2 linked regions of the Homo sapiens genome follow. The protein of the gene in region 2 purifies or fractionates together with the protein of the main gene of each other region. This does not show direct contact. Each region holds a gene or a part of one and is shown on either strand. Other genes may lie near its edges.

Region 1 (3,026 bases), on a different chromosome or scaffold from region 2:
GGTGGCAGTCGCTGGAGTCCCAGCTACTGGGGGCACTGAGGCAAGAGGATCACCTGAGTCTTAGGAGGGTCGAGGCTGCAGTGAGCCGTGATCACACCATGCACTCTAGCCTGGGCGACAGCATGAGACCCTGTTTAAAAAATAATAATAATCGGCCAGGCGTGGTGGCTCACGCCTGTAATCCCAGCACTTTGGGAGGCCGAGGCCGGTGGATCACCTGAAGTCAGGAGGTGGAGACCAGCCTGGCCAACATGGCAAAAACCCGTCTCTACTAAAAATACAAAAAAAATTAGCCAGGCGTGGTGGCAGGCACCTGTAATCCCAGCTACTCGGGAGGCTGAGGCAGGAGAATCGCTTGAACCCAGGAGGCAGAGGTTGCAATGAGCCAAGATTGTGCCACTGCACTCCAGCCTGGGTGACAGAGCAAGACGCCATCTCAAAATAAAATAAGAATAATCTGCTTGGCTTGACAGGCATTTTTAATACCTAGTGCAGGCCTTATTTAACCACAACTAATTTTCACTGTATGTAATATAGTGCTATGCCCTCACTGGGAAATAAATATGTGTTGGTGCTGACAAAGTTGAACAGTTTGTTCACAGTTATCTCAAATCACATTTAAGACTCAAGAGTAAGAGGCCGGGCGTGGTGGCTCACTCCTGTAGTCACAGCACCTTGGGAGGCCAAGATGGGCGGATCACCTGAGGTCGGGAATTCGAGACCAACATGGAGAAACCCCGTCTCGACTAAAAAAAAAAAAAAAATACAAAATTAGCCGGGTGTGGTGGCGCATGCCTATAATCCCAGCTACTCAGGCTGAGGCAGGAAAATTGCTTGAACCCGGGAGGCGGAGGTTGTGGTGAGCTGAGATTGTGCCATTATACTCCAGCCTGGGCAACAAGAGTGAAACTCTGGTCCCAAAAAAAAAATAGTTAAGAGTAAACTCTCAAGCCAAGAGATTCTGTTTTAAATGTAGGTGTTTAAAGAAGGTATAGGCCAGGTGCAGTGGCTCACGCCTGTAATCCCAGCACTTTGGGAGGCTGAGGCAGGCAGATCACGAGGTCAGGAGATCGAGACCATCCTAGCCAACTTGGTGAAACCCCGTCTCTACTAAAAATACAAAAAATAATTAGCCAGGCGTGGTGGCATGCGCCTGTAGTCCCAGGCTGAGGCACAGGAATCGCTTGAACCCAGGAGGTGGAGATTGGAGGTTGCAGTGAGCTGAGATTGTGCCACTGCACTCCAGCCTGGCGACAGAGCGTGACTCTGTCTCAAAAAAAAAAAGAGAAGTATAAAGAGATATAATATTACTTTCCTGTTTTTGATTCTGTTTACAGCAAAGTAATAAAATTATTTTTGGTACACCTGATTTTTTTTTTTTTTTTTTTTTTTTTTTTTTTCTGAGGCAGAGTCTCACTCTTGTCGCCCAGGCTGGAGTGCAACGGCGTGATCTCGGCTCACTGCAGCCTCTGCCTCCTGGGTTCAAGCAATTCTCCTGCCTCAGCCTCCCGAGTAGCTGGGATTACAGGCGCCTGCCACCACGCCTGGCTAATTTTTGTATTTTTAGTAGAGACAGGGTTTCACCATGTTGGCCAGGCTGGTCTCAAACTCCTGACCTCAGGTTATCTGCCCACCTCGGCCTCCCAAAGTGCTGGGATTATAGGCGTGATCCACTGCCCCGGCTGATACAGCTGATATTGTCAGCATCTTACATTCCCAAGAAAGTCTCATGTTATAAAAGAATGTGGTCTCTATTTTTTTCCTGTTTCCAAGTTCTGCTTTGTTTTCCTATCTTCCAGGAAACAAACGTACTTGGATTTAAAGGTCCTAGGAAAATGTCTGTGATCATTCCTGGAATGACACTGAATCATAAGCAGATCCCCTATCAGCCACAAAACGTGAGTAAGAATGTATTTAAATCAGTGAAAGACTCTAAAAGACAGTAGTACAATACACAGAGATTAATACAAAAAAAAAAAAAAAGATTGAGCTTCCAGAGCCCCACACTGGAGATAGCTCCATACACTTCTTTAGGAAAGCTGCCCCTCCAAAACCTCAGGATAAGAGCAGTTGCAGAGTCATTGCCTTGAAACCATTTTTTCTACAAAGAGAAATGCTGGATGATGTAGAATAATTTTAAAAAAAACCTGTCTTCATTGTTGGCTTTCATTCTTCGCTTCTGGTTTACCCTTTCTGAAATGGAGAAAGTATTCTCCTACTCTACCTTCTACCTCGTAGAGTTGGAGTTCTCAGTACAAAGTAATGATTTTCCCTTTGGACAGAACCATGACAGTTTGCTCTCAAGGTGGCAGAACAGAACTATGGAAAATCTGGTTGAGCTGCACAACAAGGCCCCCGTCTGGAACAGTGACACTCAGTCCTATGTCCTCAACTTCCGTGGCCGGGTCACTCAGGCGTCTGTGAAGAACTTCCAGATAGTCCACAAAAATGACCGTAAGCCTCCAGGAGGGGTTGGGTGGGAAGAGGAGGACAGATGCTCTTACAGGATGGGAATGCACATTCCCTGTACATGATAGGAAGTGACAGTCAGCAGATAATCATGGAGGAGAGACAGGATTTCTTTGGAAAGATGAAACTACAGTTTTAGAGAAAACTTGTAAATCACTGTGTTGAGGAGGGGAGAGGAGTGTGAGAGAGATGCTATAGCAAATCAGAGAAGTTGGCTGGGCACCATGGCTCACGTCTGTAATCCCAGCACTTTGGGAGGCCGAGGTGGGCAGATCGCTTGAGACCAGCCTGGGCAACATGGTGTGAAACCCCATCTCTACAAAAAATAGAAAAATTAGCTGGGCGTGGTGGCAGGCACTTGTAGTCCCAGCTACCCGGGAGGCTGAGGTGGGAGCATCACTTGAGCCAGGAGGTCGAGGCTGCAGTGAGCTGAGATTGCATCACTGCTCTCCAGCCTGGGTGACAGCAAGAACCTGTCTCAGAAAAAAATAAAAAATCAGAGAAGTCATAGAGTAGGTTGTTTGGGAAACAAAGGCAAATGACCCCAATAAAGGTTC
Region 2 (3,652 bases):
TTTGTGCCTTGGGGCAGAACCAACGTAGGAATACAAGGCGAGCTCAGATTGTGATACACAGGCCTAGCAGAGAGCTGGGCTGCGAGGGGTTCCCACACAGTTCCCACCCAGTCGCCTTACTCCTCTGGCTGTATTCCGGGCCACTGCAGCACCCCTGGCCCTGCTCAAACCATTCCTGCCTTTGCAGGAGAAGTTGGGGGAGCTCGAGCTGGGTGCGTTTTGCATGTAAGAAAAGTTGCTGAGGCATGTCCCGGAGGCCCCCGACTGGAACACCTTGTTCCTGCATCTGTTTGGCGAGTCTGACGGTTGTTTCTGCCCCGCCCACCGGAGGCCAGGCTCCCAGGCTTCCTCCCTCTGCTCTCCTCTTCCTGTGCCTTCGTCCTTTCCTCCTTTGTCCTCAGCTTTCCCGCCTCCTCCTTTCAGAGCCCACCTTCGGCATTTTCCTGCCCTACAGCCCTGTGAGTGTGCACCGGGGCCAGCACCCCGTCCAGGGCCCCATGGGTGAGTGGGGTGGCTGCTGCTTTGCTGAGATACCAGTGGCAAGCCTTAGTCCTGTGATTCGGATGCACTAACCAAGTGGTACCAAGAAGCAGACTTGACGGCATTATGAAACTGTAGAGCGTGCGTGTGCATTTTTGTAATACATACCTAATTTTTAAAAATTCAGCGGCACACAAGCCCAGCCAGCAGCCATGTTGGTTGTCGGTTATGAGCTGGACTCCACTATCCTCTGTCTCCATGTCCTCGTGCAGAGGGGGCCCCTGTGCACCGGGTTCTTCTCCCTTGTAGGACGGCGGGACCCGGAGGCTGGAGAAGGCCAAGGTCTCGCTAAACGACTGCCTGGCGTGCAGCGGCTGCATCACCTCCGCAGAGACCGTGCTTATCACCCAGCAGAGCCACGAGGAGCTGAAGAAGGTTCTAGATGCTAACAAGGTAAGCAGTGGTCGGCCTGGTGACTCTGCTTTAACCTGAAATCCATCCCAGCAGCCGACAACGCGTTTTGCCAAGGGCAGCTCGTGTGGTGCCGACGTCCGTCGTGCGGGTGGCGCCTGCCTTTTTGAGGCTTGGAATCTTGGTGATTTGTCAGTGGGCTCCAGTGGTGAACGTGTCAGGCCCCAAACTTCAGGTTCTAAATATACATCAAAATGACACCCCTACTGGGCGCGGGGGCTCACGCCTGTCATACCAGCACTTTGGGAGGCTGAGCCGGGTGGATCACCTGAGGTCAGGAGTTCGAGACCACCGTGGCCAACATGGTGAAACCCCGTCTCTACTAAAAATACAAGAATTAGCCAGGTGTGGTGGCACATGCCTGTAATCCAAGCTACTAGAGAGGCTGAGGCAGGAGAATCGCTTGAACCCAGGAGACAGAGGTTGCAGTGAGCCGAGATTGCGCCATTACACACCAGCCTGGTGATAGAGTGAGACTCCATCAAAAAAAAACGATACCCTTGGCCAGGCACGGTGGTTCACGCCTGTAATCCCATCTACCCAGGAGGCTGAACCTGGGAGGCGGAGGTTGCATGCAGTGAGCTCCGATCGCACCACTGCACTCCAGCCTGGGCAACAGAGTGAGACTCTGTGTTAAAAAAAAAAAAAAGACTCTTGATGGAGCTGGCCTGCCCTCTCCACAGCTGACAGCATCTCACCGTGCGGCTCTGGCCACCAGGAATCAGCATAAGGCCAGCAGAGTAAGCAGCGTCTTCCCCTTGCTTTGCAGATGGCGGCACCCAGTCAGCAGAGGCTGGTTGTAGTTTCGGTCTCACCACAGTCTAGAGCATCGCTGGCTGCACGGTTTCAGCTGAATCCTACAGATACTGCCAGGAAATTAACCTCATTCTTTAAAAAAATAGGTAGGCTTTGAACCTGGGGTAACACTGCCGCTCCAAATCAAGGGGGCGTCTGAGTAAGCCCAGGCCCCTCGCGCCTCTGAGTCACTGACACGCTACCCAGCCCTGAACTTCAGCGCTACAGAAACTTTATTCCCTCTGTGACCTCAGCCTGAAGTTTTGATTTGACATTTGAGAGCAGGGCCTTCTCACAGAACACGTCTGCATTCTGACTGTGCACTTTCTCTAAGCTGGGGCTGACCAACTCCTTGTACTTTTTAGCTGATAATATTAAGGCACTCTCTCCGGGGCTCTGTTGGGTTCAGCCAAGGTCAGCTTCTGCTGACTTTGGTTATGTGCCTGGAGCTGGGCTTGGGGAGGATCTGGGTGTCTTGAGAGCCCCCAGCTAACTAGGCTCCAGTGCCTGGTGTCTCACTGGGAATGAAGGGGCTGGACCTCATGGTTACTGTGTGCCTTTCACAGGTAACCACCATGTCCAGTCCCTTCATTCCCAGTGAGGCAGGCCTGTGCGCCTTGTAACCAGCAGACTGCCTGTCATCCAGCTGTGTCCCAGGTCCCTCACACTGGAAACCTGGTGACACTGGCAGGTGCCCCATGGCTCCTGTCTGACCCATATCCAGTTGGTGCCTGAGCAGTGCTCTGGCACTGGGAGCCTGACCTGGTGTCCCAGGGAAAACCTGGCCTGGGGCAGCCCATGGTTCTCCAGATGGAAGGTGTGGATTTCGTCCCCACCAGAATAGGAAGCAAGTTCAAAGATTTTTACTTAGAGATGATGATGACGGGCAAGTGGGGCACAGCGAGTCCTCCGACCACGGGTTACGCGAGGGAGGAATGACAAGTCAGGCAGAGAGAGAGGGACCCACACGCGGGTGCCTCTGCTGGGTCCAGGGCACGATCAGGCAGGTTTACTGAGCAGTTCTAATGGCTGGGCTTGGAGCTGGCTGGCGTGTTCCAGGAGTCCTGCTGTGTGTGAGGGGTGGCCACTATGGTAGGTCTGCACAGTCAGGGTCCGAGGGGCCAGTCCAGCAGGCTGCGTCCAGCTGTGCCCTAGGGAGGGTCACCGGGAGCAGCGCACGTGGCAATTCCCTGGACCAGCCACGCTGAAGAGCTGGGAGGGTGGAGGACTGAGCTGCTGGGTGGCTGCCTCTGGGGTGGGAAACCAAGGCCTGGGTTCACAGGGGATGCCGAGGCAACGTGGCTTTAGGAGGTCCCCACAGTGGGGCTGGGGCTTTGGCGCAACGTGGCTTTAGGAGGTCCCCACGGTGGGGCCGGGGCTTTGGCACGGCAAGCAGGTGCGACACACGTGCCCTGGCAGCACCATGGTGGTCCACACGCCGGCGTGTGCTCGTGTGGGCGTCCCGCATGGGGTTAACCAGGCACCCACCTTCACCTTCCAGGGGTGCACTTCGTCTTCGACACCGCCTTCTCAAGGCACTTCAGCCTCCTGGAGAGCCAGCGAGAGTTTGTGCGGCGATTCCGAGGACAGGCCGACTGCAGACAGGCGCTGCCCCTGCTGGCCTCTGCCTGCCCAGGTGTGCTCATGGTGCGGGTGGTGGGAGAGTCAAGTTCAAGTGCAGTTGAAACGTGAGGTGATATGGACACAAATGACAAGGCGGGGGCATGGGGGGTGGAGACGCAAGCAGGTTTTGCGGGACGGGTTGGAAATGTTGGCACAAATGGCCTTTTCTGGAGAAGAGGCTGCCCTCCCGTGGGAGCCACGCGCAGTCACCTCAGGTCCCTAGGCGGTGTCGCCTGCACGCCGAGCTCCGCGTGGTGGTGGGGAGAACAGGAATGAGCACTCT

The links. Proteins that work in one complex are often made in the same cells at the same time.
Region 1: the proteins of CIAO3 (region 2) and TULP3 purify together in Homo sapiens (co-immunoprecipitation; one large-scale study listed by IntAct). This does not show direct contact.

The regions. Positions count from the first base shown.
Region 1 is NC_000012.12:2,935,832-2,938,857, forward strand, and holds part of TULP3 (tubby-related protein 3), read left to right. Parts: intron 1-1,799; coding exon 1,800-1,898; intron 1,899-2,282; coding exon 2,283-2,454; intron 2,455-3,026. UniProt on the Homo sapiens protein: Negative regulator of the Shh signaling transduction pathway: recruited to primary cilia via association with the IFT complex A (IFT-A) and is required for recruitment of G protein-coupled receptor GPR161 to cilia, a promoter of PKA-dependent basal repression machinery in Shh signaling.
Region 2 is NC_000016.10:734,467-738,118, reverse strand, and holds part of CIAO3 (cytosolic iron-sulfur assembly component 3), read left to right. Parts: intron 1-789; coding exon 790-933; intron 934-1,720; coding exon 1,721-1,853; intron 1,854-3,247; coding exon 3,248-3,382; intron 3,383-3,652.